Regions from separate parts of the Homo sapiens genome. Here regions 1, 2, 4, 5, 6 and 7 are each linked to region 3. The links come from fine-mapping of genetic effects on gene expression. A gene starts in region 3. Each other region holds a variant in brackets. All regions are shown on one strand. Distances are between the middles of the regions. Region 1 has its middle 36 kb from the start of TFRC. Region 2 overlaps LOC124909478 (a long non-coding RNA gene). Region 3 holds the start of MUC20 (mucin 20, cell surface associated). Region 4 overlaps MUC4 (mucin 4, cell surface associated). Region 5 overlaps NRROS (negative regulator of reactive oxygen species). Region 6 has its middle 9.9 kb from the start of MIR570HG. Region 7 overlaps MUC4 (mucin 4, cell surface associated).

What was found.
Region 1: its variant is fine-mapped to the expression of MUC20 in blood mononuclear cells (TOPMed, PIP 0.92).
Region 2: its variant is fine-mapped to the expression of MUC20 in skeletal muscle (GTEx, PIP 0.92).
Region 4: its variant is fine-mapped to the expression of MUC20 in pituitary (GTEx, PIP 0.95).
Region 5: its variant is fine-mapped to the expression of MUC20 in putamen (GTEx, PIP 0.96).
Region 6: its variant is fine-mapped to the expression of MUC20 in spleen (GTEx, PIP 0.94).
Region 7: its variant is fine-mapped to the expression of MUC20 in tibial artery (GTEx, PIP above 0.99). The same link has a PIP of 0.9 or more in spleen and whole blood.

What each region holds. Positions count from the first base shown.
Region 1 is chr3:196,044,222-196,048,221 of GRCh38, forward strand. It overlaps the pseudogene ARL8BP1. Among named protein-coding and RNA genes, the nearest start is that of TFRC, 36 kb to the right of the region's middle. The variant T/C (reference allele first, on the strand shown) is at 1,733.
Region 2 is chr3:196,030,279-196,034,356 of GRCh38, forward strand. All of the region lies in intron 1 of LOC124909478 (a long non-coding RNA gene), which reads right to left. Among named protein-coding and RNA genes, the nearest start is that of TFRC, 50 kb to the right of the region's middle. The variant G/A (reference allele first, on the strand shown) is at 1,620.
Region 3 is chr3:195,719,283-195,723,360 of GRCh38, forward strand. MUC20 (mucin 20, cell surface associated) reads left to right here and starts at 1,696. Exons shown (of 4, transcript NM_001282506.2): 1 at 1,696-1,801. The coding sequence starts at 1,726.
Region 4 is chr3:195,761,832-195,765,909 of GRCh38, forward strand. MUC4 (mucin 4, cell surface associated) reads right to left here. Exons shown (of 25, transcript NM_018406.7): 9 at 3,439-3,618; 10 at 3,166-3,291; 11 at 2,214-2,333; 12 at 1,602-1,810; 13 at 1,024-1,114; 14 at 256-423. Among named protein-coding and RNA genes, the nearest start is that of MUC20, 43 kb to the left of the region's middle. RefSeq lists an enhancer at 319-820. The variant C/T (reference allele first, on the strand shown) is at 1,607.
Region 5 is chr3:196,654,221-196,658,298 of GRCh38, forward strand. NRROS (negative regulator of reactive oxygen species) reads left to right here. Exons shown (of 3, transcript NM_198565.3): 2 at 307-427. The coding sequence starts at 320. Among named protein-coding and RNA genes, the nearest start is that of NRROS, 17 kb to the left of the region's middle. The variant G/A (reference allele first, on the strand shown) is at 1,691.
Region 6 is chr3:195,676,588-195,680,665 of GRCh38, forward strand. It overlaps the pseudogene SDHAP2. Among named protein-coding and RNA genes, the nearest start is that of MIR570HG, 9.9 kb to the right of the region's middle. The variant C/T (reference allele first, on the strand shown) is at 1,699.
Region 7 is chr3:195,746,619-195,750,679 of GRCh38, forward strand. MUC4 (mucin 4, cell surface associated) reads right to left here. Exons shown (of 25, transcript NM_018406.7): 24 at 2,284-2,446; 25 at 153-762. The coding sequence ends at 558. Among named protein-coding and RNA genes, the nearest start is that of MUC20, 28 kb to the left of the region's middle. RefSeq lists a silencer at 924-1,090. The variant G/A (reference allele first, on the strand shown) is at 1,840.

The DNA.
Region 1 (4,000 bases), 320 kb after region 3:
AGTGTTAAATTTGAGGTCAAGGAGAAGAAAGTGGACCACAATTTTATATAGGTAATATTTTTGTGATGGAAGTAAAATAGACATGCAGATTTAAAAATAATAATTGTATATATGGGTCTACTCAGATGTCCTGATTTTACGTTAATTTTGGTAATTTGAATATATCAATAAATTCGTCTACTTATATTTAAGTTGTCAAATTTGGGGACATAAAGTTGTTCAGAGAGCCAGACGCAGTGACTCACACCTAGAATCCCAGCAACTCGAGGCTGAGGTGGGAGGATCACTTGAGGCCAGGAGTTCAAGACCAGCTTGGGCAACATAGCAAGAGCTTGTCTTTAAAAAAAAAAAAAAAAATTAAGGCCGCTACCGCCGGCCTGTGCCCGCCTGTGTGGCGCGGGCCTGGAGGAGCCGTCGTGGGCTCGGGTGGAGGCTGCTCCTGTGGAGGGTCGTCCTGGCTCACAGCCGCCATCATGCTAGCGCTCATCTGCCGCCTGCCGGACGGTCCCCTTCGCTCGTCTGGAAGGAGGAGATGGAGCCGATGCTCGTGGGCTGCAGTACTCGGGCAAGGCCACCTTCGTCACTGCCATCACGTCAGGTGAATTCAGCGGAGATATGACGGCCACAGTGGGTTTCAACACGAGGAAAGTAACTAAAGGTCATGTCACAATAAAGATCCAGGACCGGCCGGGCGGTGGCTCACGCTTGTAATCCCAGCACTTTGGGAGGCCGAGGCGGGTGGATCGCCTGAGGTCAGGAGTTCGAGACCAGCCTGGGCAACACGGTGAAAGCCCCATCTCTACTAAAAATACAAAAAATTAGCCGGGCGTGGTAGCGGGTGCCTGTAATCCCAGCTACTCGGAGGCTGAGGGAGAAGAATCGCTTGAACCCGGGAGGCGGAGCCTGCAGTGAGCCGAGATCGCGCCACGTCACTCCAGCCCGTGTGACAGCGACGAGTCAAGGCTATTGTTTACAGGATAGATGCTGCAGATCGTAAGAAGATAGAAGCTTCCCGAAACGAGCTACATAATCTTCAACAAGAGCAAAACTCCAAGTCAAAAACAAAACAAAAAAAAATTGAGACTTGTTTTACCACCCAATGTATTAGTCCATTCTCACATTGCTTTAAAGAACTACCTGAGACTGGGTAATTCATAAAGAAAAGAGGTTTAATTGGCTCATGGTTCCGCCGGCTACACGGGAAGCATGACTGGGGAGGCCTCAGGGACTGCGCCATCATGGCAGAAGGCAGAGGGGAAGCAGGCGCATCCCACACGGCTGGAGAAGGAGGAAGACAGCAAAGGCGCTGCGCACTCTCAAACTACCCGATCTCGTGGGATCTACCATGACAGCAGCAAGGGGGCATTCCGCCCCCGTGATCCAACCACCTCCCACCAGGCCCCCTCCTCCAACACTGGGGATTACGATTTGACCTAAGATTTGGGCAGGGACACAAATCCAAACCGTATCACCCAGTATATGGTCTATCTTGCTGAATATACCACATATACCTAAAAAAAGTATATTTTGCAGTTGTTGAATGTGGTGTTCTACAAATGTCAAGTAGATTGAGGTGGCTGATACAGTGGTTCAAATAATTTGTCCTGATTTTTTTGGTCTAGCTTCTCTATTTACTGCTAAGAAATGGGTGTTAAAATCTATTTTAATGGCAGAATTTTCATTTCTTTTTCATGTATTTTAAGGTGCATACGTATTTATAAGTCTGCTATCT[T/C]CCTGAATGGCTCTCTTTACAATTATAAAATATTCCTATCTTTACGGTACTATCTGTTCAAAGTCTATTTAATCTTATATTTATATAACCATTCCAGTCATAGTATGCTAGTGTACATATTGTATTTTTTCCCCTTTCAATTCATCTGTCTTTAAAGTTTCTTATAGGCAGCATATAAATGGGCCTTGATTGTTTTTTAATCATCAGTCTTGATTAGAATGTTAACATGTCAATAATGTAATTATTGATATGGCTGGACTCAGCATGCCACTTCACCAGTTTTTTTGTTTGTTCCTCTTTTGGTTCCTGCCAATTCTTTCCCTTTTGAGGTCACTTCTCCAAGTTTTACTCCCCTCCACTGTTTGCCTACCTTTGTTTACATCTCAGGTTTGGGAGAGTTTTCCCCCCGTCTTACTGAGCTTCTGGCTGTAAGCAGCAGGAGGGATAGGTTGTAGGAGGCTTATGTGGTGACTGTGGAACCAGAGCCCCCATATATGCTTTTAGGAAGATCTGGTATAGAATTCTCATTTATGCACAGACAACTTTGAAAATGTACATAAGAAATCGGTAAATGACCAGGCCCAGTGGCTCACACCTGTAATCCCAGCACTTTGGGAGGCTGAGGCAGGTGTATTACTTCAGTCCAGGAGTTTGAGACCAGCCTGGGTAATAAGGCAAAACCCCATCTCTCAAAAAATACAAAAATTAGCTTAGCTGGGCATGGTGTTGCCTGTCTGTAGTCCCAGCTACTCTCAGGAGGCTTAGGTAGGATAGCTGGAATCCAGGAGGCGGAGGTTGCAGCAAGCTGAAATCATGCCACTGCAATCCAGCCTGGGTGACAAGAGCGAGACCATCTCAAAATAAAAAAAGAAAAATTGGTAATTGTGGAGATTTAGAGGGATGACAACTCTGGAGACTAAGAGGAAAATACTTTTTAATACAGACTTTTCTGCACTTTGACCGTATGTGAATATTTTCAAAAAAGGCATTAAAAATTATACAAAGCTGGCCAGGTGCGGTGGCTCACGCCTTTAATCCCAGCACTTTGGGAAGCCAAGGCGGGCGGATCACCTGAGGTCAGGAGTTCGAGACCAGCCTGGCCAACATGGCGAAACCCCATCTCTACTAAAAATACAAAAATTAGCCGAGCATGGTGGCATGCACCTGTAATCTCAGCTACTGGGGAGGCTGAGGCAGGAGAATCGCTTGAACCTGGAAGGCAGAGGTTGCAGTTAGCTGAGATCACGCCATTGCACTCCAGCCTGGGCAACAAGAATGAGACTCCATTTCAGAAAAAAAAAAAAAAGAAAAGAAAAGAAAATTATACAAAGCTGTCCATTTGGGGTGGATTAAGCATGAGGCAGCTTAAAGGGCAAATGCAGCAAACTGCAAAGGCTTTATTTAACTCAGCACCTAAACCTGTTGACAGCCACAAGGAAGACATTGGTATCTGATATTGAATTCTAGGCAAAGCTGTCTTGCAGATAACCAGGTGTTTTACAAATATTTGTTTAGGACAGCTTCCTAACCCATGACCTTTCACATAGGCAGTTTCTCCCGTAGAATACAGCAGTTTAATAATCATCTTGCTTCTCAAGGGTATGAATGTGGCTAATTTGGACACGGGAAAGCTGGGGCATAGGTGAGGCAATTAGGCTTCCAATTCTAGGGGCCACAATTTTCGTGGCCATACTTAAGAATCCTGGCTGGCACTCATAGCAATGAGATTCAATTGTGTGATGGATTTTTTGGTAACCACACGGTAGAAGGCCAAAATAAGAAAACTCTCAACAATTACGCCTTTTGCTATAGAGCTGGTGTCCACTAACCATGTGGCTACTGAGCACCTGAAATGTGGCTAGCCAAAACTGAGATGTGCATTGCTTGAGGTACAAGGGAGTTTGAAGACACGGTATGGAGCACACCTGTAATCCCAGCCTCTCAGGAGGCTGAGGCACAAGAATTGCTTGAACTTGGGAGGTGGAGGTTGCAGTGAGCTGCGATGGCACCACTACACTCCAGCCTAGGCGATGGGGCGAGACTGTCTCGGGAAAAAAAAAAAAAAGGAGGCAGAGCGTGGTGGTGGCTCACACCTGTAATCACACACTTTGGGAGGCTGAGGTGGGCAGATCACTTGAAGTCAGGAGTTCAAGATCAGCCTGGCCAACATGGTGAAACCCCATCTCTACTAAAAATACAAAAATTAGCCAGGCGTGGTGGCCCACACTTGTAATCCCAGTTGCTCAGGAGGCTGAGGCAGGAGAATCA
Region 2 (4,078 bases), 310 kb after region 3:
GGATACTTCCAAACTCATCCTACAAGGTTAATATTACCTTGATACCAAACCAGACAAAGGCACATTTTAAAAAAGAACAAAAGAAAAAAAACTTCAGGCCAATATCTTTGATGAACATTTATGCAAAAATCCACAACAAAATACTAGCAAACCTAATTCAGCAACATATTAATAATATCATTCATCACGACCAAGTGGGATTGATACCAGGGATGCAAGGTAGGTTCCACATATGCAAATCAATCAATGTGATACATCATATCAACAGAATGAAGGACAGAAATCATATGATGATTTTAATTGATGCCGAAAAAGTATTTGATAAAGTTCAACATCCCTTCATGATAAAAACCCTCAAAAAACTGTGTATAGGAGGAACATACCACAACACAATAAAAGCCATACACAACAGACCCACAGCTAGTCTCATACTGAAGAGGAAAAACTGAAAGTCTTTCCTCTAAGCTCTGGAACACCACAAGGATGCCCACTTTGACCACTGCTATTCAACATAGTGCTGGAAGTCCTAGCCAGAGCAATCAAACAAGACAAAGAAATAAAGACATGCAAATTGGAAAGAAGGAAGTCAAACTATCTTATTTCCAGATTATATGATCTTTTATTCGTAAAAACCTAAAGATTCCACCAAAAAACTGTTAGAACTGATAAACAAATTCAGTAAAGTTGCAGGATCAACAACTGCAACTTTGTTGATCAATGCCAATCAACAAAATCAACATACAAAAATCAGTAGCATTTCTATATGCCAACAGAGCAAGCTGAAAAAGAAATAAAGAAATTAATCCCACTTAACAATAACTACAAATAAAATAAAATACCTAGAAATAAACTTAACCAAAGATGTGAAAGATTTCTGCAATGAAAACTGTAAAACATTGATACAAGAAATCAAAGAGGACACACACAAAATGGAAAGATATTCCATATTCATGGATTGGAAGAATCAATATTGTTAAAATTTCCATATTACCCAAAGCAATCTACAGATTCACTATCAAAATAACAATGACATCCTTCACAGAAATAGAAAAAATAATCCTAAAATTCATATGGAACCACAAATGACACAGAATAACCAAACTCATCCTGAGCAAAAAGAACAAAACTAAAGGAATCACATTACCTGACTTTAAATTATATTACAAAGCTATAGTAAAGAAAACATCATGGTACCCACATAAAACAGATACATAGATTAATGGAACAGAATAGAGAACCCAAAAATAAAGCCATACATCTACAGTGAACTCATTTTTAACAAAGGTGCCAAGAACATACATTGGGGAAACGGCAAGTCTTAATAACTGGTGCTGGGAAAACTGGATATCCATGTAAAGAAGAATGAAACTAGACCCCTGTCTCTTGCCATATATGAAAATCAAATCAAAATGTATTAAGTTAAATCTAAGACCTGAAACTGGAAGACTACTAAAAAACAAAACAAAACAAAACAAAAACACTGGGGAAGTTCTCCAGGACGTTGGTCTGGGCACAGATTTCTGTATTATTATTATTATTACTGAGACAGAGTCTTGCTCTCTCACCCAGGCTGAAGTGCAGTGGTGTGATCTCAGCTAACTGCAACCTCCACCTCCCAA[G/A]TTAAAGTGATTCTCCTGCCTCAGCCTCCTGAGTAGTTGGGATTACAGGCACCCGCCACCACACCTGGCTAATTTTTGTATTTTTAGTAGAGATGGGGTTTCACCATGTTGGCCAGGCTGGTCTCAGTCTACTGGCCTCAAGTGATCTGCCCACCTTGGCCTCCCAAAGTGCTGGGGTTACAGATAGGGCACAGATTTATTGAGTAATACCCCACAAACACAGGCAAACAAAGCAAAAATGACCAAATGGACTCACATTAAGTTAAAAAGTTTCTGTACAGCAGAAAACAATCAACAAAATGCACATAAAACCCACAGAATGGGAGAAAATATTTGCAAACGATCCATCTATCAAGGGATTAATAGTCAGAATACACAAGGAGCTTAAACAACTCAACATGAAAAATCTAATTATCTGATATTAATATGGGCAAAAGATCTGAATAGACTTTTCTCAGAAGAAGACCTTCAGATGGCAAACAGGTTATGTAAAGGTGCTCAACATCATTGATCATCAGAGGAATTAAAATTAAAACTACAGTGAGAGATTATCTCGCCCCAGTTAAAATGTCTTTTGTGCAAAAGACAAGCAATAACAAATGCTGGCAAAGACATAGAGAAAGGGGAACCCTCATACACTGTTGGTGGGAATGTAAGTTAGTACAACCTCTATGGAGAAGAGTATTGAGTTGCCTCAAAAAACTAAAAATAGAACTACCATATGATTCAGTAGTCATCTGCATATACCCAAAAGAAAGGAAATACCAAAAAGAAAAGAAATCAGTATATCGAAGAGATATCACTATGCCCATGTTTATTGTAGCACTATTCACAATAGCTGAGATTTAGAATCAATCTAAGTGTCCCTCAACAAATGAATAACGAAAATGTGGTGCATATACACAATGGAGCACTATTAGGGCATAAAAAAGTGGCCAGGCACAGTGGCTCATGCCTGTAATCCCAGCACTAGGGAGGCTGAGGCAGGTGGATCACCTGAGGTCAGGAGTTCAAGACCAGCCTGGCCAACATGGTGAAACCCCGTCTCTACTAAAAATACAAAAATTAGCCGGGCATGGTGGTGTGCTCCTGTAATCCCAAGCTATTCAGGAGGCTGAGGTAGGAGAATTGCTTGAACCCGGAAGGCAGAGGTTGCAGTGAGCCGGGATCATGCCACTGCACTCCAGCCTGGGCAACAAGAGTGAGACTCCATCTCAAAAATAAATAAATAAATAAATAAAATAAAATGAGATCCAGTCATTTGCAACAATATGGATGAAACTGAAGGACATTATATTGAGTGAAATAAGTGAGACACAAGAAGACAAACTTCACATATGCTGTCACTTATCTGTGGGAGCTAAAAATTAAAACAATTGAACCCATGGAGATAGAGAGCAGAATCACAGTTACCAAAGGCTGGGAAGAACAGTGGGGGAAGCGGGGAAGAGAATGGGTAAAAAATATAATTAGATGAATAAGATCTAGTATTTGATAGCACAGTAGGGTGACTATAGTCAACAATAATTTATTATACATTAAAAAAACTAAAAGATTATAACTGGAATGGTTATAACACAAAGAAATGAAAAATTATTGAGGTGATAAATTTTTTAAAAAGTGGTGGGGCTGGAGCCGTGGCTCATGCTTGTAGTCCCTGCACTTTGGGAGGCTGAGGCAGGAGGATCGCTTGAGTTCAAGAGCTGGAGACCAGCCTGGGCAACATGGCGAGACCTCGTCTCTCTCCACAAAAAAATTAAAAAATTAGCCAGGCATGATGGCACGTGCCTGTAGTTCCAACTACTCAGAAGGCTGAGGTGGGAGGACTGCTTGAGCCCAGGAGGTTGAAGTTACAGTGATTGTGCCACTGCACTCCAGCCTGGGGGACAGAGGGAGACACCAGTCTCAAACAAAACAAAACAAACAAACAAACAAAAAATGTAGTAAAAATGGCCATTGTTTCCTTGTTCTTGATTTTATAGATGAACAATTCAGTTTTTTATCATAAATTTTGGATGCTAGCTGTAAGTTTTATTAGGTGCCATTTTATTAGTTTGAGAAAGCTTCCTATTATCCCTAGTTTTATAATGAAACGGTGTAAATCTGCACAAGATGCTATTTCTGCATCTATGGCATGATCATGCATTTTCTCCTTTATTCTGTCAATATGGTGAATTACCCTGATTGATTTTTCATGACTTTATTGATATATAATTTACATACAATAAAAATCATCCTTTAAGGCGGGGCACGGTGCCTCATGCCTGTAATTTCAGCACTTTGGAAGGCCAAGATGGGCGGATCGCTTGAGCCCAGGAATTGGAGACCAGCCTGGCAACATGGCGAAACCCTGTCTCTACAAAAAAATACAAAAATTAGCCAGACACGGTGGCATGCACCTCTAATCCCAGCTACTTGGGATGCTGAGGCAGGAGGATCGCTTCAGCCTGGGTGATGAA
Region 3 (4,078 bases):
GCCTGCTTTAAATTTGCTGTTATTTTTCTATTAAGATAAAAAACACTGTTTGGATCAGATAGTTTTTCTGTTTGTAAACTGGTGAATTTGTATTTATTTCATGGCTAAATTTCTTTTTTTCTTTTCTTTCTCTTTTTTTTTTTTCTTTTTTTTTTTTTGAGGCAGAGTTTCACTCTTGTTGCCCAGGCTGGAGTGCAATGGCGTGATCTTGGGTCACCACAGTCTCCTCTTCCCTGGTTCAAGTGATTCTCTTGCCTCAGCCTCCCGAGTAGCTGGGATTACAGGCATGCACCACCATGCCTGGCTAATTTTTTGTATTTTTAGTAGAGATGGGGTTTCTCCATGTTCGTCAGGCTGGTCTCCAACTCCTGACCTCAGGTGATCTGCCCGCCTCGGCCTCCCAAGGTGCTGGGATTACAGGCGTGAGTCACCGCGCCCAGCTTTCATGGCTAAATTTCTGAAGTAAAAGCTATAGGATCTTTGTGTGTGTGTATATATTTAAAAGGCCTTTATAATTTCTATAATTTTATGTTTAATTGGCAATTAAATCTGTTTTAATTTCCCTCCAGCACACCAGACTTTTTCTCTCCATACGTTATGATGTAAATTTTGCTATTCGATTTTCACCTCAGTTTCCTTAAAATGCAAATTCAAGGCTATTTAGCTGACAACCGCTTAGAGTAGTAAAACAGGTTATCAAGAATTCGAAGGTGTGGCTGGGCACGGTGGCTCACGTCTGTAATCCTAGCATTTGGGAGGCTGAGCCGCAAAGATCTCTTGAGGTCAGGAGTTCAAAACCATCTTGGCCAACATGTTGAAACCCCGTCTCTACTAAAAATACAAAAAAAATTAGCCAGATGTGGTGGCAGGTGCCTATAATCCCAGCTACTCAGGAAGCTGAGGCAGGAGAATCACTTGAAGCCAGGAGGCAGAGTTTGCAGTGAGTCGAGATCAAGCCATTGCACTCCAGCCTGGGCAACAGAGTGAGACTCTGTCTCAAAAAAAAAAAAAAAAAAAGTAAAAAAGAATTTGAAGGTGTAAGAAAAAAGCTCTTTATGAATCTATAAGATGAACTTCTTTCAGCATACCTAATACATCTGTGTATTTATGTGTTGTTGTGTACACAGTGTTTTGCTACTGAAAATATATAAAAGAGCTCTAATTAATTGGCTTAAGAAAATAAAAGCACTTGGCTGGGTGCAGTGGCTCATGCCTGTACTCCCAGCACTTTGGGAGGCTGAGGTAGGTAGATCACCTGAGGTCAGGAGTTTGAGACTAGCCTGGCCAACATGGTGAAACCCCATCTCTACTAAAAATACAAAAATTAGCCCGACGTGGTGGTGCGCGCCTATAATCCCAGCTACTCCAGAGGCTGAGGCAGGAGAATTGTTGGATCCCGGGAGGAAGAGGTTTCATTGAGCTGAGATCTCATTACTGTACACTCCAGCCTGGGTGACAGAGCAAGACTCCATCTCAAAAAAAAAAAAAGAAGCTAGTGATTCCATATCTTCAAATCAAATTTCAGTGGAGTGTTTACCGGGCAAGGAAGGCAGGGGGGTCAGCTTGCTGACAGCCTCAACCTGCCAGCCCTCAGCCTGCACATTTGTGATCACCTGGTCACACACCTGGGCAGGAGGCTGCCCCTCCTCCCTGGTTTGAGGAAGCAGGAAAAGGTACCCGCGAGAGACAGCCAGCAGTTCTGTGGAGCAGCGGTGGCCGGCTAGGATGGGCTGTCTCTGGGGTCTGGCTCTGCCCCTTTTCTTCTTCTGCTGGGAGGTTGGGGTCTCTGGGAGCTCTGCAGGTAAGGAGGCCTAGAAGGGCCTGGTGGGCCTCTCCCCTAGTAGGGCTCTGGGAGTGAATTTCAGTATGAGCCACCCTTCATGGGCAAGGGCAGGCTCTCTCGGGTTGATTATAATGAACCACAGTGCTACTTGTGAAGTGCTATTATTGTTGATAAAGAGTGTGCAAATGACAGTGTGAGTGTAAGCGTGCATGGCGCTGCAGTACACACTAATCAACCATGACGATGTGTGTGAGTGTAAGCGTGCCTGGCGCTGCAGTACACGCTAATCAACCATGACGCTGCCATCGTAAGGGATGGCTGAGAGTTTGTCTTTATGAACGTGGGACAGTAAGTGGGGCACGGAGCGGGGGTGCAGGGAGGTGCCAGCTGGTGATCATTGTGCAGAAAGCTGAAGAATGTGGCTTAACAAGATTCTGACTCCTCCCAGTTTATTACCTAGCATGGATTTCCTTCAAAATACAGATTTCGTGTGAAAAGTCCAACTGCCACAAACTGCTTGGGAAGGGTGGATGCTGACAGGCAGGGCTTTTGTGAAAGACGGGAATGAACCCTGACCTGTCGCTAATAGGAGTTGTGCCAAACTCATCACATACATTAAAAAATAGAAAAGGATTTATTTTTTTTTTAGTTCTATGCTCCCTCTAAACCTCGAGTGGAGAGGCCGGGCGTGGTGGCTCACACCTGTAATCCCAGCATTTTGGGAGGCTGAGGTGGGTGGATCACCTGAGGTCAGGAGTTCGAGACCAGCCTGACCAACATGGAGAAACCCCGTCTCTACTAAAAATACAAAATTAGCCGGGGGTGGTAGCAGGTGCCTGTAATCCCAGCTACTCGGGAGGCTGAGGCAGGAGAATTGCTTGAACCTGGGAGGTGGAGTTTGCAGTGAGCTGAGATCGCACCCTTGCGCTCTGGCCTGGGCAACAAAAGTGAAACTATGTTTCAAAAAAAAAAAAGCTGCAGTGGAGAGTCTGGAGTTCCCATCCCCACCACTCACAGCCTCCCCCATCATCAGCGTCCCCCACCAGAGTGGCACATTTGATAGGACTGAGGAACCTACTTTGATGCATCATTATCATACATTGTATTTTTAATCCTCACAACGGCCCTGCAAGATCGGCCCTGTTTTTACCACCCCCCACCTCCACTGCTTTAAGGGTGAGGCCACTGTGCTTCTGGGCATCCAGTAACAACTCCTCGGAGCCAGAATCTGACTCCTCACAGGCCTGAGCACTGCACCCCGTGGCCTCCTGCCTGTGCTCACCGTGGCCTGGTCTGCGCTGCACGTGTCCCGTTAGCTCCACCTTACAGGTGCGGAAATGCAGGCTTGGAGCTGAGAGACTTGGCCAGGGTCACAGGGCAGAGAGCAGATTCTCCAACTCAGGGTCCCAAGTCCACACGCTTTCCTCTCCACCAGATTTGAAGATTGTACCAGGAGAGCCGCAGTGTTCCAGAGCTACTGAGGGGCTGGGCTGGGATTTGCTGTATTCGAGAAGACCCCCTTGGACCCGAGAGGCTGTGGGCTTGGGGAGCATGAGGAGGTTTCACAGCAGAAAGGACACCCCGGGGCTCCTGGATAAGCCAGAAAATGTGCCAGGGGAAGTCGGGCTCCAAGGGCACCACTCTGGGCTTCCAGCTGTGTGGGCTGGACCAAGAAGGCTCAAAGAAATGATCTCAGGCTTGAAGTGGGGAGAAGAAACTGTATTATGAAGGCAGACGAACAGTTCCTGCAAAAGTGAGATTTGTGTGTGCAGCTGGGCCGCACTGGACCAGGGATGAGAGTGGGTGCCCGGGACTCGCCTATACTGCCTGGGGGTGCAGCCCGCACTCCTCACTATAGTCAGATCAACTATGCGTGCTTTCCAGTGGCCTGGGAGAGGACTCCATAGGGAGGGATGCTTACCTTGTGGGCTTTGGAATATAAGCCCTTTCACCTTCTCCGCTGGTCCTCATCACGTTGGCAAGGCAGGTATTGTGACCCTGTTTTCTCAGGTGAGGACATGGAGGCTGGGAGGGGTCTAGAGACTGGCCTGGCTAGTAGGAGGCTGAGTCAGGATTTGAACCAGCAGATCATCTGACCCCGGAGCCAGTCGTGGGCGGCACAGCGGGAGCTGCAACCGAGGCTCTTGACTCCTGCGTCGTCATTCCCTGAGGTCCACAGGACAACCAGTTGGGGACCTGGGGCCCCATCCTGATGCCCTGGGGAGAGGTGCTAGGCCCCTTTTGGGTCTATGGGCTACTTTTGGGCCAGTGGAGCTGGGTAAAGACCATCTCAAA
Region 4 (4,078 bases), 43 kb after region 3:
GAGAAAGGATGGCTGTGCCCCCCGCCTCCCCGCAGCCCCCCCTGATGCTCCCTTAGAGCGGGCGGAGGACAGGAAGGGAGCCTCGGGGGAGGCTGGAGAAGCCCCTCGGCTCCCGGCCCGCTCTGTGCCCCAAGGGTTCTGCTCCAAGGAGGCGGAGAAAGGGAGGCCGAGCAGGGCTGCCCGGGCCGCCGGCGTGGGGGTCCGAGCTCCGGCTGGCTCCGCGGAGCCTCAGAGGCAGGTCCGAGCCGCCCTCACCCAGGAGCCCCTCCGTGCGGTTCTGGTACTCGGGCGGGAGGCTGGCGGAGGCGTGGAGGATGTTGGAGAGCGCGATCACCGAGACGGTGGCCCAGCCGTCGAAGCTGGCCGAGACCTCAGAGCCGTTGCGGCTCAGGAGGACTCCGGTGGCGTTGAACGTCTCCTGGCCTGGAGCATCGGGAGGCAGCGGAGAGGAAGCCAGGTCGGCACCACGGCCCGCACCAAACCCGCGCCCTGCCGGGCCCGCACCACCCCCACCCCGCCCCTGGGGCTGAAGCCGGGAGGGGTCTGCACTGGAGGCGGAGAAGAGGCCGGCGAGCTGCACGCCCCGCTCGGGGGTAGAGGCTGCGCTCTCTTGGCCCTGCACCGCCACGCACCGGGCCCTGCACCGCCACGCACCGGGCCCGGCACCACAACGCACTCGGCCCTGCACCGCCACGCACCGGGCCCTGCACCGCAACGCACCCGGCCCTGCACCGCAACGCACCGGGCCCTGCACCGCCACGCACCCGGCCCTGCACCGCCACGCACCCGGCCCTGCACCGCCACGCACCGGGCCCTGCACCGCCACGCACCGGGCCCTGCACCACAACGCACCCGGCCCTGCACCGCAAAGCACTCGGCGCGGCACCGCCACGCGCCCGGCCCTGCACCACAACGCACCCGGCCCTGCACCGCCACGCGCCCGGCCCTGCACCGCAACGCGGCTTCCCGCCCACCTCGCTGCTCCCGGTGCGGGGAGGGGGCGGCCGGCGCTCCCCAACCTACCTCCGCCGTCTTCATGGTCAGGCTGAAATGTCACAGTCTGGTTATCCAGCAGGACACGGATTGCGTCGTGAGGCTCAAGGAGCCATTGGACCTGGAAGGAGATGGGAGGGGGCCTGAGCCCGACCCGCAGGTGGAGCCGACGCCCAGGAAAGCAGCTGGGAGAGCCCCTGGGGCTGGAAGCTGCGCCCTGGGCCGGGAGGAAGGCGCTGGAGGCCGCGGCCTGAGGTGATGCCAGCCGCCGTCTACCGTGTGCTCGGCAGGGCCAGGCATGGTTTTCGGATTATGCCCTTTAGCTCTTACAACAGCCCGTGAGGCAGGTAATGTCATCCCCATTCTTACTAGGAGAAAACCAAATTAAGTAGTTTCTTCGAAGCCAAGCAGCTGGGAAACCGTGGGGCCAGAGCCCTAATCCACCATCCCCAGGATTTACTCCGGGACAGCTGCGTGGATGGGCTGTGTCCTCCCTCCCTCCTGCCCGGCTTCCCCTCCTTCGCTCTCTTCCTTCTCCTCGGCCTCAGTATGTGGCTGAAGGTCCCTGTGGGTGGAATGCAGGGAGGTTCCCGGCACCCCTCACTCACCGTGA[C/T]GGGGCCCAGGCTGCTGGAGCGGTACTGAGCCGCAAAGGCGATGAAGTTGGTGGCCTGGGCTGAGCCAGTCTGGGCGGTGCGGCCCTGAAGCAGGAAGGAGGAGTTCCCGTCTTGGGCCCCGACCAGCAGGAAGTCCCCCAGCCCATTGAAGGTGTAACTGACACCATCCAAGGTGGTGATGTGGGGGTCCCCGAACATCCAGGCTGGAAGGAAAAAAGAGATGCTGCCTCAGCATGACAAATCATGTGTAGGGCTGAGGTTCCTCACTGCAGTCAGGTGCGGCACTTGTCCAGGAGGACTCAGGGTGAGGTTCCTCACTGCAGTCGACTGGGGCACTTGTCCGGGCGGACTCAGCTGGGGAGATGTTCACAGAGCACAGAATCCTCCCCTCAAGCCTCCTTGCATTTTCGTGCCCCGCTATTCTCACTCCTTCCCCAACTCAGGTACAAAGCCCCTCCACTGACCATCCACCCATCACTGGCGTCATCTCCATCTTCCCTTGTGGCCACAGCTCTGCCCCTACTCCTTATCCAGATGCCACCTCCCGGAAGCCCAGAAGCTCCCCCTCCCCAGAGGCTCTTCCTGGGCCTGGGCCCTGTCGCTCACCGGGCTGTGGGGGCCTGTATGTAGCACAGCCCACGTGGGGCCGCCTCTGCTGGTACAGGGCACAGAGGTAGGGCTTGTCATTCCAGCGGCAGCACCAGCTCTGTGGCTCCAGTTCCTGGGCTGCGGAGAACAGCAGTGAGTCGGGGAGGTTGAGGACCTGGAGAAGCTTGGCAGGGCAGGGTGGTGTTGGTTGAGAGCTTGGCAGGGCAGGGCGGTGTTGGTGGAGAGCTTGGCAGGGCAGGGCGGTGTTGGTGGAGAGCTTGGCAGGGCAGGGCGGTGTTGGTGGAGAGCTTGGTAGGGCAGGGCGGTGTTGGTGGCAAGAGCATGGCTTTGGAATCCAGCATGGCCCTTCTCATGACCTTGGGCAGTGAATAGGGTGCTGTCTCTTTTGCAGGCATTGGGGCCACTGTGCAGCAGGGCGCATGGTAGGAGCTAAGCAAATTTCCTGTCTTGAGGGTGGAGAGCCAAGTACTGCTGCTCTCAACGTGCTGGGAGTGGGGAGGGCACGGCTGACGGTCTGGGAACTGTGGAAACTGCCATGGGACGGGGGAGAGAACGGGAGGACACAGACCACGTGACCCCACACCCCTGCGCTCTCCAGCTCCCTTGGAGCGTCTCTGTGGGAGCTGACTCTCAGTCTTCCCCCAAACATCCTGCTCATCTGGGTCTACAGGGACGGGGTCAGCCTAGGCGCTCTCTTCTTGCCTGGAGAAATGGCCCCACTCTGGCCTGGGGATGTGGAGCCAGGTATAGAGATGAGGAAAGAGGCTCTCAGCTCATACATCCCCGAATGTCCGCTGGTGGGGATGTTGGAAGCTTCCTAACGTTACCCGATCAGGAAGTGGAGGCCCAGAGAGGGGAAGGGTCTGGGAAGGAATGAGGACGAGAGGCTTCATGCTGAGGGTCCCCTACTTGGCCGGGAAGGTGGGGTTGAGATCACGGACTCACGCACCCAACTGCCAAGGACGCTGCACGTGCCAGCCTTCACGAAACTCTCCCCAGGGCCCGTAGCTGCAGCACACGCCTCCTCGCCAAGAGGTGAAGCTGCACAGCTGCCTACTGCCGAGGCCCCAGCGACCTGAAACAAGTCCAGTCCCACTCAGGCCCAGGCTGGGGCTGCCAGGGGCGGGGTGGGAACAAGCAGGGGCTGTTTCTGGGGAGAGGCTGAGGGCGTGAGCAGAGAGGGTGGTGGGTGGGCTTGTGGGGGGCGGGAAGGAGGTGTCACCTATGCTGACGGGTTGGAATCGTAAGTCCCGTCGTCCCTGCTGCCAGGAACAAGGGCAGGAGACCTGGTTCCAGCCCCAGCTGGGCCACCGAGGCTGGCTCTTCAGCCACTGCAGGCACTCGAGACGGTAGTTGGGCCTTTCTTCCCGGTGTAGCCTGTAGAACTGCAGCCCTTGGAGGCCTGAGGTCGGGGATGGGGGGGAAAGGGCTTATCCAGGGCTGGGGCTGCAGGCCCTGTCTCAGCTTTAGGGTCAACCAAAACTCACAAATGCACCCCCTCCTGCCACTTCTCACCTCTTTGGACCCAAGTCAGATGGGCAACAATTCCTCCCCCAAAGCCCCTCGCTTGACTTAGCGTCTGCTTCTGACGACCAAACGTGGTTGCCACAGAACAAATAGAACTGGATTTACACTTCACAGTTCACGTGGCTGGTTTCTAAGGCTAAAATGTCCTTCAACCTATCACATTTTGGAAACTATTATTTCTTTCCCATTGGGGCCTCTGGACTGAGTCATGGAGAAGGCGCCATTGTTTGCCTCTTGACGCTTGTCTTTCTACCCGCATGAAAGCTCTTTGAGAGAAAACACAGTTGGTCTTTTTCCTTTGTTTCTGGCTGTTAGCACGGTGTCCAGCACACGGC
Region 5 (4,078 bases), 930 kb after region 3:
AGGCCTGGTTACTCAAGCTTTTTGCTTCTCCCTTCTGTGCTGGACTCGCTGAAGTTTAGTGTTCAGCCACCCGTCCATCAAGTGGTAGAGGCAAAATGAAATTGAGTTCTTGTCAACAGTTTCAGTGAAAGGCCGGAAGTCTTGGCTAAATGGAGGTATCTGAGTATCCTGTGGGCTGCACCTCTATGGAGCTCCACAGAGCTCCAAGACCACATAGAATTGGAACTGGCTCCTTCTGCCGATAATACAAACAGCCCTCTGGGATGTCCTTCTCTGACTTACCTCTTCCCTGCTCTCTGTCCACAGGGCTGCCCTTGAGATGGAGTTGCTGCCTCTTTGGCTCTGCCTGGGTTTTCACTTCCTGACCGTGGGCTGGAGGAACAGAAGCGGAACAGCCACAGCAGCCTCCCAAGGAGTCTGCAAGTTGGTGAGTTTCCCTTGAACCCTGATCTGTCGGCTGCTCCTGTCCTGACAAGGCTTGGTCCATTTGGAAAGCTGACAGATTGTCCATCAGGAAGGGCAGAGAATGAAGGAGCCTGCATCACTCTGTGCCTGCCTAGCACAGGGGCATGTGCAGCTGCCCTTTAACCACAGGATTTTAAGATGCTTCCTGGGAAGAGCCAGGCAGTCCCTGCCCCGCCGTTCTCACGCCTGCTGAGGATAGGAGGCATCCGAGACCAGCCTAGGGCATCCTCCCGGAACAAGAACAACTTGTTAAAAATCTGGATGATTCAGGCCGGGTGCAGTGGCTCAGGCCTGTAATCCCAGCACTTTAGGAGGCCGAGGCAGGCAGATCACTTGAGCCCAGGAGTTGGAGACTAGCCTGGGCAACATGATGAAACCACATCTCTACAAAATACAAGAATCAGTCAGGTGCGGTGGCACACACCTATAGTCCCAGCTACTTGGGAGGCTGAGATGTGAGGGTGGCTTGAGCCCAGGAAGTGGAGGTTGCAGTGAGCTGAGATCATGCCCCTGCACTCCAACCTAGGTGATGGGGCCAGACCTTGTCTTTAAAAAAAAAAAAAAAAAAGCCAGGCGCGGTGGCTCACGCCTGTCATCCCAGTACTTAGGGAGGCCAAGTCCGGCGGATCACCTGAGGTCAGGAGTTCGAGACTAGCCTGGCCAACATGGTGAAACCCCGTCTCTACTAAAAATACAAAAATTAGCTGGGCGTGGTGGTGCATGCCTGTAATTCCAGCTACTTGGGAAGCTGAAGGAGGAGAATCGCTTGAACCCGGGAGACGGAGGTTGCAGTGAGCCGAGATCACACCCCTGCACTCCATCCTGGGCGACAGAGTGAGACTCTCTCAAAAAAAGAAAAAAACAAAACAAAACAAAAAACTGGATGACTGAGCTGCACCGATGGTATGAGAATCTCCGGGTGAGGTGCTTGAGAGCTGGAGAAGCCTGCCTCGGAGTTTGTGGACGAGTTGACCGCTAAGGCTTACACAGCTGCGGGGAGGACTTGCTGCCATGCCACTCTGCAGAGCGGCAGCCCGGACCACGCTCAGGCTAAGAAGACCCGGAGCGTGGATACCCAAGCCTCCTCTAGGGCTTTCAGCCTAGATGTGAAAATAGACTTGGGTCCAAACTGAGAAATTTCCAGTAATTTTCCCCTTCATCTATATAACAATGATATCAAAAGTCTGCTCAAGAAACACATATTTAGGCCAGGTGCATGGCTCAC[G/A]CCTGTCATCCCAGCACTTTGGGAGGCCGAGGCGGGCAGATCACAAGGTCAAGAGGTCGAGACCAGCCTGGCCAACATAGTAAAAACCCGTCTCTACTAAAAATACAAAAATTACCCAGGCATGGTGGCACATGCTTGTAGTCCCAGCTACTCGGGAGGCTGAGGAAGATTGCTTGAACCTGGGAGGCAGAGGTTGCAGTGAGCTGACATCGTGCCACTGCACTCCAGCCTGGGTGACAGAGTGATACTCCATCTCAAAAAAGAAAAAAAAAATGAAACACATATTTAATAAACATTTCTTGAGCCATATTATATACTAGGCGTTGGGAAGACAAATTGGATGTCAGGGCTAACACTTACATTCAAGTATGTATTCTTAAAGCATAGCTGTCATGGTTTTTAACCTCTTTTAGTAGGAACCTATAACCACTGTGCTAGAGTCTATTCCAATATGACATAGAGGTTACAAGCTAGACTGGCCTGGTTTAAACCCAGCCCCACCCTTAGCTGGTGACATTGGGGTCACTCTAGGTCATAGTTTCTCCATCTGTAGAATATATACGTAATAATAATATCTACCAATAACATCATGCTGTGTTGACTGATGATTAAATGGGTTAATACATGTAAAGCACTCAGGACAGTGCCTGGTAGGTAGTCAGTGCTACGCGTTTTATCCGTTATCACTCATATTATTATTAATCTCTGCTATGTTTGACCTCCAGCATTCTCTTACAGAGGCAATAAAGGATTAACTACACAGTAGTTATTCAGGGGTTACCAGGCACAGGAAGAGGAGAGATAAATGAACAGCCTTTCAGAGTTCAGGCAAGGCCCTCTGCTTGACACTTTCTGGCCCAGTGGGCAGGAGTAGAGAATTGGCTGCCAGGAAGCCCAAAGAGTGGGTTTCCTGTGGCTCTTCCGAGTTGAGGACTGAGAATTGGAGAGTCTGGGTGCCCTCCACTGGCCCTCATCACATTATCCATTTGACCTTATTAGAAAGTGGACGTTGGCCAGGTGCGGTGGCTCCCGCCTGTAATCTCAGCACTTTGGGAGGCCGAAGCAGGCAGATCACCTGAGGTCAGGAGTTTGAGACCAGCCTGACCAACATGGTGAAAGCCCGTCTCTACTAAAAATACAAAAATTAGCCAGGCATGGTGACGGGCACCTGTGATCTCAGCTACTCAGGAGGCTGAGGCAGGCGAATCGCTTGAACCAGGGAGGCCGAGGTTGCAGTGAGCTGAGATCGCGCCACTGCACTCCAGCCTGGGCGACAGAGCAAGACTCCGTATCAAAAAAAAAAAAAAGAAAAAGAAAGTGGACATGGTAAGCTTTTCTGGGATGGCCATATGGTCCTTCTACATCACTTCAGCGGGGCCACAGGGAATTGCAGAGGTGTGACCCACGACTGCAGCAGCTGTGGTGGAACAGCACCCCATAGCGTGAAGAAAGCCCCTGACCACAACATTCTCCAGTGAGTCCACACGCAGGGAGGAGCGCAACACCCACTCACATAAAGACACACACCTGGCCGGGCGCGGTGGCTCACACCTGTAATCCCAGCACTTGGGGAGGCCAAGGCAGGTGGATCACCCGAGGTCAGGGTGGCCAACATGGCAAAACTCTGCCTCTACTAAAAATACAAAATTAGCCCGGTGTGGTGGTGTGAGTCTGTAATCCCAGCTACGTGGGAGGCTAAGGCAGCAGAATCGCTTGAACCCGGCAGGCAGAGGTTGCAGCAAGCAGAGATGGCGCCATTGCACTCCAGCCTGGACGACAAGAGTGAGACTCTGTCTCAAAAAAAAAAAAAAAAGATAAAAATTCTCTTCCAGAGTACTTTGTAATTATAATGCAATCCCAATCAAAATACCAAAGAGGGAAGGGGGATGTGGAAAGAACTTGGCAAATCCTTTCTAACGTTCGTCTGGAAATTAGAGAAACCCAAATGCTCAACAATAGGAGATGATTAATTAGATCATCCTAATAATTATAGCTCACATTTATTAAGCACAGTAAATGTGTTTCACCTCAACAGTCACACTTGATCCTGAAAAAAAACGCTATGCGAAAATGACGAGTATAATTTCGGTTTTACAGGCAGGGTAATGGAGGTCTCTTTCGGTTCCGTAACCATCCAAAGGTCACCCATTTGATCAAAAGCAGAGCCACGAAGCATTGGCCCTGGAACTCTTGCTCTCAGCCACTGTGCTATTCATGAGATGAATGCATATGCTTCCTAAAAAGATTATGATCACATTTATTTGTACTGCCAAGGCAATAAGTCCGTCATACTTTATTGACAGGGGGAGAAAAATAGGTTACTGAACAGTTTGCACAGTATGGTCTTATTTTTGTTTTTTAGACAAAGGTAGGTAATATCTTACGAAA
Region 6 (4,078 bases), 43 kb before region 3:
AAAATACATATAATTTTATAAAAAAAAAAAACCTTTAAAACTTTTTTCAAGACATCTTGGAAACACAAGAGTTGCAAATCTTGGCCGTGCGCAGCAGCTCACACATGTGATCCCAGCACTTTGGGAGGCTGAGGCAGGTGGCTCACCTGAGGTCAGGAGTTCGAGACCAGCCTGGCCAACATGGTGAAACCCCATCTCTACTGAAAATACAAAAATTAGCCAGGTATGGTTGCAAACTCCTGTAGTCCCATCTACTCCAGAGTCTGAGGCAGGAGGATTGCTTGAACCAGGAGGTGGAGGTTGCAGTGAGCCGAGATGGTGCCACTGCACTCCAGCCTGGGCTACAGAGCAAAATTCCATCTCAAAAAAAAAAAAAAAAAATTGCAAATCTTGAAGTATAGGTGAGAGCACACAACAGTCCAAATCAGCAGGTGACTTGCAAGCACACAGCAGCCACCTTCCTCCCCCTAATGTGAAGGACAGTGGGGCGGCCGGCCCCTTGGGACCACCATCTGGAAGGTGTCATTTTTTCCCGTTAGTGGAGTGACATTTATATACACTTAATGTATATAAATCTGTATACATTTAATTTTTTTTTTTTGTAAGACAGGGTCTCGCTCTGTTGCCCAGGCTGGAGTGCAGTGGCGCGATCTCGGCTCACTGCAACCTCCACCTTTCGGGTTAAAGCAGTTCTCATGCCAGATAATTTTTGTGTTTTTAGTAGAAATGAGGTTTTGCCACGTTGGCCAGGCTGCTCTTGAACTCCTGACCTCAAGTGCTTCACCTACCTCAGCCTCCTAAAGTGCTGGGATTACAGGCGTGAGCCACTGCACCTGGCCTACATTTTAATTTTTTAATTTTAGAGATGATTTCTAGTTTATTCACTCTAAGATCACTTAATGGATATCTACTGTGTGCCAACAGTTTTGCCTTTTATGTCTGTTCTTTAAAATTGGCCCCAACTCAACAGATGGCCTCAGATGTAGGGTGGGTTGGCAGTGTGTTAGCTCAGGAGACTTACACCGTTTCCAGGCTCCTTGAGCGGCTATGCTACATTTTTGTGTGTAGTACTAAATCCATTTGTTTTTTTAAAACGGTTTTCAAAAGTTAAATTCTAGCTCTTTTTGTTGTTGTTTTAGGAGATAAAGTCCCTCCAATTAAACCAAATGCTGGGGAAGAATCTGTCACGAATCTTGACAAATTGAGATTTGCTGATGGAAGAAGCATAAGAACATCGGAACTGCGACTCAGCATGCAGAAGGTAAGAGCCTGGACTCGCTCTGGAGTGAGCAGGCTGGCTGCATACCTGGCCCTGCACTGGTTTTGTTTTTTTAAAAACAGATCTAGGGGGATGCAGGTGCAGCTTTGTGTGGATGTACTGGGAGGTGGTGGAGTCTGGGCTTTTCATGTACCTGTCACCCAAGTCGTGTGTGTTGTACTCAGCAGGTAATTGCTCATCCCCACCCCTCCCGCTTTTTGGAGCCCACAGTCTGTTAGTCCACTCCGTGTGTCCATGTGTACTCACCGTTCAGCTCCCACTTCCAAGGGAGAATGTGTGACACTTGACCTTCTGACTCACTTAGGATAGTGACCTCCCATTCCATCCGTCTGGCTGCAGAAGACATGATTGCATTCTTTTTTTATGGCCAAGTAGTATTTCATGGTATATATGTACCACATTTTCTTTATCCGGTCGTC[C/T]GTTGATGGGCACTTAGGTTGATTCCATGACTTTGCTATTGTGACTAGTGCTGCAATAAACATACGAGGCTGCACCAGTATGTGGAGGTAAACAGCAGTAGGACATACTCCTCACTGTATCAAGAATATGAAAGAGACCAGAAGTGCACTTCTTCTCCACATAGAAGGTCAGCAGGCCAGGGCAGAATTAGTGACTGCTTAGCATCCAGGACAGCCTTCTGTGGTTCACTCGTGTGTGCTTGGGCATGACCTCCGTGCCCTGACCGTCGCTGGCTGTCATGGATGAGTCACAGTGTGGAGGAGAGGGAGCCGCAGGACTGCCGGAGAAGCTCCGTCCCCAGCAGGGCAGCTTTCTCTTAGAGGTTTCCTGGAGTTCAACACAACACTGGTGCTTACATCTCAGGCCCAGATATTGATCATGTCATCATGCCTGGCTTCCAGCAGCTCGGAAACGTCTTTAAGCTAGACCTGTTGCTGCCCCTAAATATACTCAGCAGAGAGGGAGAGTGGGCGGCAGGTGGACAGTGATCTGTGCGGCCTGTGCTGCTGGGAGTCGGTCCAGTAGGACCGTCTGTGATGATGGAAATGTTGAGTGTTTGCCGTCCAGTATGGCAGCCATTAGCCATGGGGCCGTGGAGAACCTGATATATAGTCAGTCTAAGAAACTCAATTCCTCTAATAACAAGGATTCTTGTCCATGAATGAGATCTCTTGTCTGCTATTTGCAAGAATTTCTGCGTATTTTCTAGAAAGAAGTCCACTGCTTTAGTCCTATTCTGAAAGGCATTTGGTGTTAGACACAAGAGAACAGGTTCCCTGCTGACAATTTTCAGAGGCCCGTGCCCTTCGGTCTTCAGGTGAGGCTGGGCTTGAGGGAGGTTTTGTGGAACGGTGAGAAGAACAGCGTGACTAAGGCACAGAAGGCTGAGTGATGCCCTGCAGTGCTTTTGTAGGGTTGGAGGCCAGCTGGGAAAGAAGGAACCCTTGCGTTAGAGAATGGGAACATGCCTTAGGATATAGAAATGGCAAATCTGAGATAGTTTGAAGTGAGAATACTAGAAGTGTTCCCACCAAACAAGGTGTGTCTTGGTGCCTGCTGTATCCCAGGCTCCGTGAGGTGCCGGAGTCAGCACTGAACAAACAGAGCTTCCTATGCTTGCGGAAATGCATTTCGTTGGGGGAAGGGATTTTTCTGCTGACTCTGGCTATTAATAGTAACAATCAAAAAAAGAAATGAGGTAAATTGATAGAAACAGGCCCCCAAATGTGGCCATAAACTGGCCCCAAAACTGGCCATAAACAAAATCTCTGCAGCATGTGACGTGCTCGTGATGGCCAGGACGACCACGCAGGAAGGTTATGGGTTTACCGTAATGAGGGCAAGGAACACCTGGCCCACCCAGAGTGGAAAACCTCTTAAGACCTTCTTAAACCACAAACAATAGCATGAGCGCTCTGTGCCTTAAGGACATGCTCCTGCTGCAGATAACTAGCCAGACCCATCCCTTTATTTCCTGTAAGGAATACTTTCAGTAAGTCTTATCACTGGCTTGCTGTCAATAAATACGTGGGTAAATCTCTGTTTGAGGCTTTTGGCTCTGAAGGCTGTGAGACCCCTGATTTCCCACTCCACACTCTATATTTCTGTGTGTGTGTCTTTACTTCCTCTAGTGCCACTGGGTTAGGGTTTCCATGACCCAGCTGGTCTTGGCAGTAAATATTGAAAAGGAATAGATACAGTTGCCATTATTTACAGATATAATTTCCAAAAAATTTCCAGAGAATAAACGGAAAAACTAACAGAAACAAAACAAGAATGTAGTAAGGTATGTGTATAAGAGATTTGTATGTAAAAATCAGTAGCTTTGCAATGTGCCAGCAGTAATCTGCTCAGACATCAGTAAATATCTCATTCGCATTTCAAACAAAAAATTTAAAATGCCTTGAAATAATGTAACCAGAAATACGAAAAGATGATATGAAAACGTCGCTGCTAAAGGACATGAAAGAATGTAATACTAGATTCTGAGATGCAATTTTTTTCATTTGTTCTTCCTGAAAAACCATTAGGTTGATGTGCATTACAGTGTTACGATTATGTATGAGTCTAAGGAAAATCAGATGAAATGTCCAAATTGAACCACGAAGGTGCATTGGTAGAGGAAGAGACAATTAGGGTCAGTGGAGCAAAGCACAGTTAGAGGGAGAAGCAAGGAGGAGGAGGGATCACGGAGGTGGTGCCTGTGTGTCCCACAGGAAGCAAAAGCTGATGCCCAGTTCCCAGCATACCTAAGTAAACTTCAGGTCCACTCCTAGCACGTTTCTCGTGATAGTAAAACTATGAAGGAACTCAGTGTACAAGGAGCTTCTACAAAATAGG
Region 7 (4,061 bases), 27 kb after region 3:
GGGCTGATTAGGACTGGATCCAGCTGCCCCTAATGCTCCACTGCTGCCCAGCACTTAACCTCCACACTCTGTGCCCTCTGATGGTTGGGAGAAGTCTGTGTCCAGCCCTTCGGCCACCAGAAGAAAATCAAGAATGGAATTCCTGGTTTTGGAGACACAAAAAGTCAGAGAGACTTTATTTAAATAGAGTTAATTTGAAGTAAACCAGAGAGTTTTGTGTGCAGAAGCATTTTGCTTAACTTAGGGCCATCACCACATTATGAACTCGTGTGTGTGTGTGTGTGTGTGCACGCGCGCGTGCACAGGCTAGTGTCCTTCTGTGGGTGTGTCTGCGTGAGGACCCATCCATGCATGTTTGATCTTTATGGCCTCCCCCTGTGCACCTGCGCCTATGGATAAGGTATAGTCTTGTCTTGATTCCCAGTATTCATTCTCCTTGAAGAATCCTGACAGCCTTCAGTCACCTTCCCTTTTCCAGTCTCCCAAAAGCAATGGCGCCTTAAATGTGCGGTAAGGATGAGGTGAGTCTTGAGGTAGCCTAGGCCACAGCTGCCCCTTCAAGGCAAGGCCTCAGCTGAGTTCAGGAAATAGGAGAACCTGGCCCCGGAGCAACCCCAGAAGCGCAGGACCACGAACGTCCCGACCCCCAGCAGCAAGAGGCCGCCCAGGGCCCCAAAGAAGATGCCGAAGAACGCGTCGAGTTTCATGCTCAGGTGCTCACAGTGCTCGCCCCAGGCCGTGTAGATGGAGAAGGACACACAGCTGGTGACCAAGAGAGACAGACAGGCGGTCAGAGGCGGGAGCTCAGCCTCCCAGCCCCTCCTCTTCTGCTGGGGAAGAAGAGGTTCTGTAGGAGAGGCTGGGCTCGCCCCACTCTCCGGAGAGACTGAGTCAGCCCTGAGGCCGTGCTGAAGTGAGACCACTGGGCAAAGGAGGCAGGTGTGGGCTTTAAAAACATGGGCCTGGGCCGGCGCGGGGGCTCACGCCTGTAATCCCAGCACATTGAGAGGCTGAGGCGGGCGCATCACTTGAGGTCAGGGGTTCGAGACCAGACTGGCCAACACGGTGAAACCCCATCTCTACTAAAAATACAAAATTAGCCAGGCGTGGTGGTGCGCACCTGTAATCCCAGCTACTCAGGAGGCTGAGGCAGAATCGCTTGAACCTGGGAGGTGGAGGTTGCAGTGAGCCGAGATTGCAACACTGCACTCCAGCCTGGGGGACAGAGCAAGACTCCGTCTCAAAAAACAAAAACAAAAACCTGGTGTGAATTCAGCTGCACGTGCAGTCAGCTGCACCTGGGCGGCAGGGATGCCGGCCACAGGTGGGCATGCGCAGTCACACCCCCGCCCCAGCCCGGCCCCGCCCCGCCCCGCCCACCCGGAGAGCCGGGCCCCGCCCCACCCGCGCTCCGCCCGCCCCCTCCTTCGGCGGGATCTGGAACTGCAGCTGGCGGAGGGCCCGGAGCCCAGGTCTGCGTGGGGCCGCGGCTTCCTGCGCTGTTAACCAGCGGAGCCCCGGGGACTGCTGATGAGGGCAGGGGCAAAGGCGCCTCGCTTGACTGAGGGGCAGGACTGGCCTAGACACAGGACTGCAGGTTCTTTTCCCACAAGGAGACAGCAGGGAAGCAGCAGCCAGATCAGGTGGGAGGGTTTGACTTTGGGCCCTGGCGCGGTGGCTCACGCCTGTAATCTCAGCACTTTGGGAGGCCAAGGTGGACGGATCACCTGAGGTCAGGAGTTCGAGACCAGCCTGACCAACATGGCGAAACCCCGTCTCTACTAAAAATGCAAAAATCAGCTGGGCGTGGTGGTGCATGCCTGTAGTCCCAACTACTCG[G/A]GAGGCTGAGGCAGGAGAATCGCTTGAACGCGGGAGAAGGACGTTGCAGTGAGCCGAGAACGCACCACTGCACTCCAGCCTGGGCGACAAATGACACTCCATCTCAAAACATAAAAATATAAAAAATGTTTGGCTTTGGAAACCATGCCCTGCTGCTTAACCTACTGCGTCCTGGGGCAGGTTCCTTGTCATCTCTAAGCTGCAGTTTTCTCATCTTCGAAATAGTTCTAAGCCCCCCTATGGCTCTTTTGGGTTTCAGAGTTTGTAATATAGCGCCTTTATTCTCCACACAGAGCAGGCACTCACAACTCTCCTTTTCCACTGTCCTCTCTTCCCTGGTCTCTGATCTCTCGAGCCATCCTAATTCCTGGACCCCTTGCAGTGTCTTGCCCAGCTTGGGTTCCCCAGCACTGTCCTCCACCTCCTGGCCACAGCCCTATGCACCTGCAGCGGGGCCCACTGGGCAGGTGCTGGCACTGGCCTCCATGGTCACAGTAGCCCCTACTGCACGGGGACACGCAGGTGAAGCCGCTCTGGGGGCTGTAGACCAGGTCGTAGCCCTTGTAGCCATCGCATCTGAAGTAAGCCTTCAGCGTGCTCACGTTCACTGTCGGGAAGGACACAGATTAACACAGAAAGCAACCGATGAACACTAAATCAGTACCTTTTCAGCCACGAATTCCTTTTCGGGTGTTTATCCTGAGAAATAATTGGAGAAGTGCACAGATACATATGCCCCTGGACGTTCAGATCAGCATGGTGGATAATAGTAACGTTTCAGAAGTAGGGTCTGGTTAAATAAACTACTGCACATCCTTACCAAGGGATGGTGCTTCCTATGGAAAAAGTTTCCTAGGGAAAAAGGTTCCTAGGGAAAAAGGTTCCTGTGGAAAAAGGTTCCTATGGAAAATGCTTTCCTGAAGAGCACATGCTTTGAAGGTGGCCAGACTTGGGTGGAAACTGAAACTCTGCTAGTGACTAGATGTGTAATTCAGGGAACATTCCTTCACTCTTTCAGCTTCAGTTTCCTTATCTTTAAAAGGAAATGATCATAATAGCACTTATGCTGCTGTGAGATTTAAATGAGATAATGTGTCCACAGTACTCAGTACAGTGCCGGACACACAGTAAGCACTCAAACAATGGTAATGATTATTATAATGTATTTTAAAATATGACACTATATTCAAACATACCATCATAATATGTCAAATGGGAATGTGGACAGAATATATGAGACAACCTGTTCACAACTGTTTAATGAGGAGGTTTTCCAACATTAGGAATGATTTGATCCTTCAGTAAAAAATGGATGTCTGAAGGTTCCTAGGCATAAAAGAAAGTTCAGAAGGATATGTAGGAAATACTGTTGTCTCTCTGGGGATTGGGATTACAGGGTTTTTTTCCTCTTTTCTTTTTGTTAAGTTTGTGTTTCCTAAAGTTTCTGCAATAAACATACGATGCTTGTATAATAAAAATTATAGGTTTTCCTTAATTGCATAGTCAGGGCTTGCCTCCCTGCGCCTCCTACCCCAACTCCCCAACATACAGTAGTTCTGAGGGATTTCACCCCCTGCTCCGGGAGAGAGCGGGCTTAGCCTGGATTCTGGGAGAAGCTCTTGCTTGGTCCCAGACCCAAGTAAAACAGCAGTTCCTGTTGTGTTTGGGGCGGCCCCTGCCCTGTTCTCTGCCCTATACAGAAAATAGGACGTGTTATTCCTTTGTTTCTCTGACAAGCTTGCCAACTTATTCCTGTTCCAGGAAAACCGGGGGCTGTCAGCACTGAAAGGGGGCTCAGAAATCCCATCTCATTTTCAGATGGGGGTGCTGAGGCCTGGCCTGGGGAAGGTGCTTGGGGAGTGTTGAGGCCTGGCCTCGGGGAGGTGCTGGGGGGTGTTGAGGCCTGGCCTGGGGAAGGTGCTGGGGGGTGTTGAGGCCTGGCCTGGCCTGGGGAAGGTGCTGGGGGGTGTTGAGGCCTGGCCTGGCCTGGGGAAGGTGCTTGCACAGGGTGACACCATTTCAGGGAGTAGTTGCCTCTGTCCCTGGCCAGTCTCCAGTCTCCAGCTTCATATCCTCCCGCTGGAGAGCAGAGACGATGGGGGTGTCCCTGTGTATGCTTAAGTGCAATGGCATTTTAAGAAAACTATTAGCAATTTTATGAAACTAAATTGCTGCTGTTTTATTAGCAGCCACAGTCAGCAAGGCCCTGGCTGGGTGCTTGC